Linked DNA regions of Homo sapiens. The protein of the gene in region 3 interacts with the protein of the main gene of each other region in a pairwise test. Each region holds a gene or a part of one and is shown on either strand. Other genes may lie near its edges. The genes, in order: SLC10A1, ELOVL4 and TMEM222.

What was found.
Region 1: the proteins of TMEM222 (region 3) and SLC10A1 interact in binary tests that used the Homo sapiens proteins (3 or more experiments, as listed by UniProt).
Region 2: the proteins of TMEM222 (region 3) and ELOVL4 interact in binary tests that used the Homo sapiens proteins (3 or more experiments, as listed by UniProt).

The regions. Positions count from the first base shown.
Region 1 is NC_000014.9:69,783,663-69,787,320, reverse strand, and holds part of SLC10A1 (hepatic sodium/bile acid cotransporter), read left to right. Parts: intron 1-1,013; coding exon 1,014-1,224; intron 1,225-3,658. UniProt on the Homo sapiens protein: As a major transporter of conjugated bile salts from plasma into the hepatocyte, it plays a key role in the enterohepatic circulation of bile salts necessary for the solubilization and absorption of dietary fat and fat-soluble vitamins.
Region 2 is NC_000006.12:79,919,914-79,923,571, reverse strand, and holds part of ELOVL4 (very long chain fatty acid elongase 4), read left to right. Parts: intron 1-1,775; coding exon 1,776-1,947; intron 1,948-3,658. UniProt on the Homo sapiens protein: Catalyzes the first and rate-limiting reaction of the four reactions that constitute the long-chain fatty acids elongation cycle.
Region 3 is NC_000001.11:27,334,501-27,337,027, forward strand, and holds the end of TMEM222 (transmembrane protein 222), read left to right. Parts: intron 1-166; exon of another isoform or gene 167-254; intron 255-878; coding exon 879-966; 3' UTR 967-1,900; downstream 1,901-2,527.

The DNA.
Region 1 (3,658 bases), on a different chromosome or scaffold from region 3:
CTGGAGGGCCTCTCCCTAGACAGGGTCCTGGGACTAACATATATAAGATTCCAAATGGAAAAGGAAATTGGACAAGTAGGATACATATTAGAGCTGGAAGGACATATTATTCAGGCTCTGAGTGTCATAATTTATTTTAAATAATATCAAGAGGAACCAGAAAGTAAAGAACATGAGAACACCAGAGTTGGGGACTGGAATACTATCCAAGATGCAAAGCAAATCTGACCAGGTTATCTTGTCACTTACTCAACATGGGTATCTATTACTGCCTTCTCTACTACCCCACCATTATGGCCCTTCAATTATTCTGTTTCTTACTGCTTCACTATTTCTTTTACAGTCCTTTTAATCATGGTATCTGTTTATTGATTTTTCTAGTAGGGTTTTTGACTTCTGCCTGAGCATCACTCCCATGCCACCCATCCCCAAAGACCAAGTGTCCTGTCACTGTGTCTCACACTCAGACTCCCCACGAGGTAAAATGTGCTGATATAGCTAATTGTTATTGTCTCCGTTGGACAAAGTCACTACAAGAAGCCATTCCCTAGGCTCTAAACCAGACATTTAGTAACTGTGGGTCAGGTGCCATTCCATGGTCCAATGGGCTAATGACCAGAGTAATGGAATCACACAGTTGGCTTTCTACAAAATGGGCTTGGCATGGGGGAGGTGCTCAATGCGAAAAGGGTTCCATTACAGAGAAGGAGATCAGAATGGCTCCTTCCACAATGAAGCACACAGGGATTGAAGCAGTTGAACCACCCTAAGTTCAAATGCTGCCTTGGCCACTTACTACCTTGTGCGACTTTGAGCAGGACACAACTCTTCTAGTCCCCAGCTTCCTTGTCAGCGAAAAGAAGATAGTATGCTTACTGCCTAATGTTATGGGGAAAAGGAACTGAAGCCACATATGTCAAGCACTTAGCACAGTGGCACTTAGCAGGCACTCAACAAAATAGTCTGTATTTATGGGCTCTCTCTCTCTCCCCTCTTCCCATGTCTCCCACCAGCATTGTGATGACCACCTGCTCCACCTTCTGTGCCCTTGGCATGATGCCTCTCCTCCTGTACATCTACTCCAGGGGGATCTATGATGGGGACCTGAAGGACAAGGTGCCCTATAAAGGCATCGTGATATCACTGGTCCTGGTTCTCATTCCTTGCACCATAGGGATCGTCCTCAAATCCAAACGGCCACAATACATGCGCTATGTCATCAAGGTAAGAACCTGGGAGGCTTGACAAATTAGGGCAAAAGAGTAAAAACACCATATACAACTATAAGATATAATCATTATATTAATAATAAACATACATATGCTCCTACTAGATGCTAAGTTTTATGCTATGCACTCTAAGGATTCACTGTCACCAGAGTTTGATATTTGCAGAAAGTGAAGTAACACATGAGGCTGGCGTGGTGGCTCACGCTTATAATCCCAACACTTTGGGAAGTTGAGGCGGGTGGATCACTTGAGGTCAGAAGTTTGAGACCAGCCTGACCAACATGACGAAACCCCGTCTCCATTAAAAATACAAAAAAAAAAAAAAAATTAGCCGGGCATGGTAGCGAGTGCCTGCAATCCCAGCTACTCAGGAGGCTGAGGCAGCAGAATCGCTTGAACCAGGGAGGGCAGGGGTTGCAGTGAGCCGAGATCGCGCCACTGCACTCCCGCCTGGGCCACAGAGCAAGACTCCATCTCTAAAACGAAAAAAAAAAAAAAAAGAAAAGAAAGAAAATGAAGTAACACACGAGAGAAACAAGATCCAATTCCAGTGTACACGCAAGTATTTGCAGAAGGCAAGGAGATGGGAACAGTGAGGGCTGGAGTGGTCAAAGAGCCTTATTAAAAAGGAAGGGCTTGAGGCATTTAGGTAAACCTGGGGAGAAGCCTGAATAGAGTTCAGCAGGCACTAAGGGCAAATTTGGCTGATGTGGCAAGAAGCTAGAGGAGACAGGTAGTGTACCCATTCCCAGCATTTCAAGAGAGGGATGGGGTGGGAAGTGGAGTGAATTAAGGCCACAAAGGTTTTGAGAAGCACTGTGGTCACAGACAGGGCATCATGCCACTGCTTTGTGTGCAGAACTCCTAGAGTGCAGCTATGGTCTCTCCACCAATATTTTCAACCTTGGAGTTTGGTCCCTGCCAGCCTCCCCCTTGGCTCACTATTCATCCCCCAGGGCCAGGAGGTCATCCTGGTCCTCAGGAAGGACTTGACCTCCTGACCTCCTGTACCATCTCTGCCCCTGGATCAATGCCTCTGGCCTGGTCTGCAAGGCGTGCTGCTGAGAACCCCAAAGTTTGGCAGCAGCTTTGGGCCTGGAACAAAGAAGTCAAGAGTCCAGTTTTCAGGGGGGTTTTATTTTCACACTACCATTGTCTCAAGAGTAGTTTTTGCCCTTGTCCTGTCCCAGTGCCATGGCCACAGCTCCCCTTCCCGCCTGCTGGAGGACATGGAGGAATCATCCCTCCTCCTTTCTGTGGCCAGTCACCCCACCTCAGCCCTGGATTGCAATCATTCTCTCTACCCTTGTACTCAAGAGACCTCCTTTTATTGATTATGCCCCTGGCCCAGCAGCCTCCCCTCTCTCTCATTTCTAAAATATCTCTGTATTGGTTCTTCACAATCAGCTTTGATACGAACTCACATATCTTCTATCTTCAAAAAACAAAACAAAAAGTGTCTCTCACTGGGATTTTTTGTGGAATCCACCTCCCATTCCACCTAATATCTCCCTTTGCTCTCCTTCCTAGCCAGGTTTTAGGAGTAGTCCCCCTCACTCCTCTCTCTCTCTGTCAATCGCTTCCTCTCAAACACCTTCCATTTCCCCCATGCCACCGCCAGAGCTCTCTCATGAGTGACCAGGCCCTCAGCAATTCGTTTCCATTATTTGAATCCCTCTCTTCTCTCCTTGGTCTCCCATCCACCCAGCATCTTGATGACCACCTGCTCCACTTTCTTTGCCAAATCCAATGGACATTTCTCAATCCTTCCTTGACCTTCTAGCAGCATTGGACATAATTGACCACTGCCTCCTCAAAAGCCTTCTCTGTCAGCTTTAGTGACTCTAAGCTCTGCTGCTTTCCTCCTACCTCTCATGACCTTCAGACTCCCTTATGAGTTCCTCTGGTCAAAGGCACTTCTCTGCATTCAGACCAAGCTTTCTGCCTTTCTCACCAGACCTCTCCCAGCACAGGATCTGGTCCCTCTCAGGTCTGCAATTACCATCTGCAAACCGAGACTTCCAGAACAGCATCATCAGATGTCAACTCTATCCTCACTCCAGAATCCATTTATTATCTACCAGGTCTTTCTATCTGAATATACCTCAGACATTTAAAACTCAATATATGTTAAAGTCATCTCCTCCCCATGTGGTTATCTCAGTCGGTGGCACTGTGTGTGTGCCCAGTTGCCCCAACCAGAAACTGGAAGTCATTCTCAATGTTCCCTTCTCCCTCACCACTCACACCCATCTAATCAATGACTGTCGATTCCACCTTCTGTTGCTGGAATCCATTCATTCCTCTCTATCCTTACCTCTCACTAGACAACTCAAATGGCCTTCTCATCCAACCTCCTCACCCAGTTCTAACCTGAGGGTGAAGATGTGAAGTACAAACTCTATCATGTCACTCCACTGCTTAAAGCC
Region 2 (3,658 bases), on a different chromosome or scaffold from region 3:
CTTCTGATAACTATTGCCAAAGAATCTCTTCAGTTGGAGGGCTGACTTCTTGCTTGCCGTAGGGAAGGGAACAGGGATAAGTGTTTGACTGACTGACTTCTGGGAGTATGCATAGAAAAACCCTTGGGTGGGGCAACATATTACTATTTTTAGGATAAAGGTTTAAAAATACCACTCTCACTTACAGATGTAAATTTTCAAGTCTTTAAAAAATGAGCTATTATGAGAACTGTAATCTAGGAGGATAAAGAACCTGAGATTTGCAACAGATTTCATTTGAAATCTTCCTCGTGCTCTCTTCTCCTCTCTAATATGGGATGCAATAGAGTGAATATTTTACGCAGAGACTCATTTCTGTATTCATTGTTACGTAGCCAAGAAGTATCACTTTTTGGTGTAGTTTATTTAAAGATATCTAGTGCAGTTTGCAAACTAAGCAGACTTATTTGTTGTTATTTTATGTGAATTGTGGCAAATGTAGAGGTCCAGATAGAGGAGAAATAAGAGATTGTATCTTTCCTTCTAGTTAAAGGTTACGATGCCAAAATGGTGACAGTTACTTTATTTTAAAGAACTAATATAATAGTGAATATTAACTATAGTGTTGCTGGGAGTAGTTAACTATTTCAAGCTTATTTTCAACCAATTCATATCATTTTTAATGATATTTTTCAAGTAAATTCAGTAAATAATTCTCAGTTTGTAAATACTTTGTTTCTTATATGCTTTCTGTTTCTTCTTTCCCCATACTTTAAAATTATAATTTTGTTTTTCAAATGCAAAAGCCAAAACAAACAAAAATCTCATGACATATACCAGGTGCAGGTATAAAATGCAAAGGGATCCTTCAACTCTAAAACACCTAAGCCTGTCTGTGAATGAATCTGACAGGGCCCTAACACATGAAAGCTTATAAATAGATTTTAGTTATGTACTGCCTTAATTGTTATTTGCACATAGGATGCTTATCATAGAAAATACTTGACATAAAAAATTAAGTTTGGTTTACTGTTACAGTAGGATTCTTGTAAAACATTTTAAAACATACAGAGGTCACCTCTCACTGGATCCTTAATCTCAGTATGTAATGTAATCTTTCTGTACCATCTGGTGCCTTAATTAGAGCCCAGGAAAAGAAAAGACTTATTCATGTAAGCAGGATTATATTTATGACCTGGGAAATATTTGTTTGTTCATTCCAATTTTTTATTTTAAAGATTTAATACCTAATACAAACTGCTGTGATTGGATATTTATGTTGTTGCACATATTGGTGCAGTCGGAGAGGTGAGGGAGAGAGGGAGGTGAGGGGAGAGGGTGGGCAGACAGGCAGACACTTGTAGAGACCAGTTGCTACATGAACTTACTTGCAAGTTTTTCTGAGGTAGTATAATGTAGGCTAAGCATGAACAACTAAAATCATTTTACAAAGTAAACATCTTAGTTCCTCTACCAAGTTGAAAAGCACAGCAGTCTGAATGTGCTTCCAGCTCTGTATTCAGCAGTTTGACACTATGTAACATCTACCTATGGAATAGACAGAAAATGTTCTCTAACTTATTGGCACTGTATAGATAGAGCTTTGGACTCTTTCTTTTCTATTTTTCCCCATGGAGAGATGCTTAGGTTTTTCAAACCTACTTAGCCATTAATGATTCCATGCCTTGTACATTTTGTGCAATATACAAATGTTTATTTTGGACTTACTTACAATGAGTATAAACCCATACAATAGTGTCATTTTGGTGTTTATAACACGCTTTCCCTTTTTACAGATAGCTGCTGCTCTGTGGTGGTACTTTGTATCTAAAGGAGTTGAGTATTTGGACACAGTGTTTTTTATTCTGAGAAAGAAAAACAACCAAGTTTCTTTCCTTCATGTGTATCATCACTGTACGATGTTTACCTTGTGGTGGATTGGAATTAAGTGGGTTGCAGGAGGACAAGGTGAGCATTTTCAGGAATATACTGCTTGCGTTTAATTGCATATATGTGTTCAGTGGAAAGCAATGAGAACCTAGGACTTTGACTTGATCTACCATTTAACTTGCTTTCATGGTTAATCATTTCCATGTTCATTTCTTTTTTTTTTTTTTTTTTTTTTTTTTTTTTGAGATGGAGTCTCGCTCTGTCACCAGGCTGGAGTGCAGTGGCGCGATCTCGGCTCACTGCAACCTCCACCTCCCGGGTTCCAGCGATTCTCCTGCCTCAGCCTCCTGAGTAGCTGGGACTACAGGCACACACCACCACGCCTAGCTAATTTTTTGTATTTTTAGTAGAGACAGGGTTTCACCATGTTGGCCAGGATGGTCTCGATCTCTTGACCTTGTGATCCGCCTGCCTCGGCCTTCCAAAGTGTTGGGATTACAAGCATGAGCCACCACACCCAGCCATCATTTCATTTTTTAAAAAATTTGAGGCAAGTATAACTTTTGCTTTTTATCTGTGACTACTTTAATACCTAAAGATTTGCCCCAGAGATGAGCATAAACCAAGACTAAAGGTAGAAAACAATATTTTGATGGGGAACGGGTCTAGTAGTTCTGATCCAAAGAATACCAAGACACAGCCCCTCAAATCTGAAGATTTCCATCTTAGCCCATAGCTCACTCCTGCCCTAATACAGATTGAACATCCCTAATCTAAACATCTGAAATCCAAATGCTCCAAAATTCAAAACTTTTTGAGCACCAGCATGATACCACAGGTGGAAAATTACACACCTGACCTCATGTGATGGGTCACAGTCAAAACACAAGTGCAGAACACACTTTATTCAGTATACCTAAGGGAAAAAAGACCCTCTTAGCCCTTTTCCATGTACAGCATAATGTTGATGCCAAACAACCACAGATAATGTCCACACGGGTGACATCTTTGCTTTCTGATGTTCAGAGTACACAAACTTTGTTTAATGCATAAAATTATTTTAAAATTTTATAAAATTACCTTCAGGATACATGTATAAGGTGTATATGAAGTTTTGGATTTAGACCTGAGTCCTATCCCCAAGACACATCATTATGTCTATGCAAATATTCCAAAGTTTAAAAAAATCTGAAATCAGAAACACATCTGGTCCTGAGCATTTTGGATAAGGAATACTCAGCCTGTATAGGTCTTGTTGGTTCTTATTCAAAGGAAATTTTATATAGCCTTGTTAATGTTAAAGAGGATCTAAATTCATAGCTTGGCCAAGATCTGCCTCCTGTCTTTTCAGATGCCTGTAGATTAAGGATGATTCACATTGTTGAGCTTGATGCAGATTATTCCTCTGAGGAGGATCCAGGGTACAAGTCATTATAGTATAGTTCACCTTGCTGCTTTCCATTGTCATATTATGATAATTGGCAGCTTAGGAATTCATACATATATTATTGGGGGCCCAGTTTAAAACAATACAGTTAAAGGCAACTTCTGTAATTTTAAAAGAAAATTAGTAAATCTGAACTGACTTAGATCACTTTATGACAAAAATTAATTATTATTACATCTATACCTTGATTAAATTAATATTCTGAAAAGAAAGAATGTCATTGAGTTTGACTGACTGGAATATCTCTGTAGATTTATCTATATTAAATGAATTATTCAATGTGTGTAGTGCTGTCATATTTTAAACTATTTAGAAACCTAAGAAATAAGTACTGTTTTGTTG
Region 3 (2,527 bases):
GCTCTTGCCTGCTGTGAGACCATGGGCAACTGCCTTGGTCTCTCTTAGCCACAGCTGTCTCTGGTGAAATGCAGGCAATGATTCCGGCTCCTCAGGGAGGCTTCTACGGATCCCTGTGCTCCGGTAAAGTGAGCAGATAGATCCTCTCATAATGACTGCCCCACAGGTCCCTTCCTAGGCAGAGAGATTGAGTGAGTCGCCCATGGTCGCCACAGCATGGACACAGCAGAGCCCAGACTCGTGAGCCAGCATAGGTTAGTGCTGATCTGGCCGCCTCTCCAAGCTTTCCTCTTAGCCACGTTCATCATTAAGAGGTTCTGAAAAGAAGACTTTTAGGGATATTTTTAAGTACTGCATGGCTTTTAGAAGTCCCCTGAGAATAACTGGTCACACAGAGGTTGAACCCAGACCCCTGGCTCCCAGCTGCTTGGCTCCAGCCACAACACTGCTGACCCTTGCCAGCCCCAGAGCTCCCAGTAGTCCCCATTATGAAGTCCATAGGCAGAGGGCACACGTGGCTTCCATACCCAAACTGCAATTCCTGGTCCTCTTGCTGGAGACCCTAGAGGTAGGTGGCTATAGATGGAGCCAGTGAGGCCTAGAAATGGGGAGCATGTTTCCTGTTCCCAACCAGCGAGGTGTCAGTAAATCACCAGGAGCGCGGAGCAGCCCCTGCCCGGGACCATAGCTGGTGATCCCCCATAGTGGGCAACCATGCCCAGCCTGCTTCCTTGATTGGCCAAGTTTGGGGTGAGGGGGTGGTTGGGTTTTCCTTAGGGATGGCAGCCCTATTGGGGTCTGTGGGTGCTCAGGGCTGCGGGCCGCATGCCTGCTCACCAGGCCCTGCCCACCTATGCTCGCTCCTTTCTCTCTGTCAGCGTTGGGGCCTTCGTGAAGACCTGGCTGCCCTTCATCCTTCTCCTGGGCATCATCCTCACCGTCAGCCTGGTCTTTAACCTCCGGTGATGGCTGCTCGGTGGCCCCACACCCACCAGGGTCCCGAGGAAACAGCCGCCATCCCTTTTGGTTCCAGATTTTTTTCTCCTCACCCCAAAAGGCAGGGTTGGGCCTGCTGTTGTGGACCGGGGGTCGGGGCTGGCAGGATGGAAGGACTGAGGACCAGCATGAAGTGGGGGTTTGTTGTCTCCCTGCCTCTCAGAAGCACCCTGTCCCCTCCTCCCCAGGCCTGTGACTCCGGCCCTGGAAGCCCCTTTGTTCTTCTGTTGAAAGGCTTTGGCTTCCCGCTGTAGAGCTGCTCCCGCCACCACCTGCTGGGGTCCTGCCTCAGCCCAGTGCCCAGTATGGGGAGAGGAGGACATTTGGGCTCACCTGTCAAGGTGGCCCTGGGACCAGAGCTGGTCCCAGCATGGGGTGCACCGGGTACACTTAACGTGTCTCTATAAGCCAAGTTGCTTCAGGACCTTCACCACTGGCCTCTAGAATGGTCCAGAGGGGCTGGCTGGGTCCCTTTGTCAGACTCCTGCCGGCAGCTGCCCTGGGGGACATGTGTGCCCATCTGGCATCCTCCAGCCCGTGCAGTCCGCTCTTCACTGTTCCACGGCCTCCCAGTGCCTCCCAGCATTGGACCCATCTCCCCCTGCAGTTTGAGGCCAGAGAGGTGAGTGGACCTGACAAGTGCCAGAGTAACCGTGTAGACAGAGCAGTGTAGACAGCACTCAGCCCCAGCCCCAGGTGTGGACCTCATGCTGGTGATGGCTCCCCTGGGTGGCCTGCCAGCACAGCCAGTGCCATCAGGGAGCTGAAGGGGCTGTCCCCCACCTAACTCCAGCTCCCCCTTCACGTTGTCACCAAGGCCCTGTGCCGCCCGCCTCGCCCCCCTGCTCTGTGGATTCCTTTGGGAAGGGCTCCCTGGGCAGGACAATAAAGAGTTTTGACTCCAGTTGGTGCCCTGTCATTGTTTTCTCCCTCTCTGGGGCCCCCTTGCCCCTTAGCTCATAGCGTCTTGGTATTCTTGGGACCCTATTACCCTTGACAAGGGTCTAGTTGCCAGCACCATGGTTGAGTCTGCGTCCAGTGCCTGGGGCCATCAGCATCCCTCAGGTATATCCCGCCCCTGAAGTCTGGGGATTCCCTGCCATTCTCCATTCCCCATTCCAAAGCTTTCCTCTTGAGGCAGGTGGGCATTGAAACCCCTTCCATCGTCCCTGTTGGGAAGGACTTGTAGGCTTGGGGTTAGGGCTGAGTAGAGCCTCCACTGCTGTCCCCACCACCCGCCGGGGTACAGAGTTGGGGATGAGCCAAGAGCACTGCCAGCCTCTGGTCACTGTATCCATCCAGCCTTCGCTTGCCTCCGATCCTTTGCTCTCCACCATCCCTCTCATGGCGGCCCTGCCTAACCAAGGCCCAGCTTAAAAGCCGCTTCCTCCCTGAAGCCTTTCCCAACCCTGTCCATGCATCACTTCAGTTGAACTAGCCAAGGATTTGGTCTTGAACGTGGCCTTGAGGACATGCTCTAGCAGCTGGCCATGGGGTCCCTGGTCAGGCATCTGCCAGCTCACCCCAGACC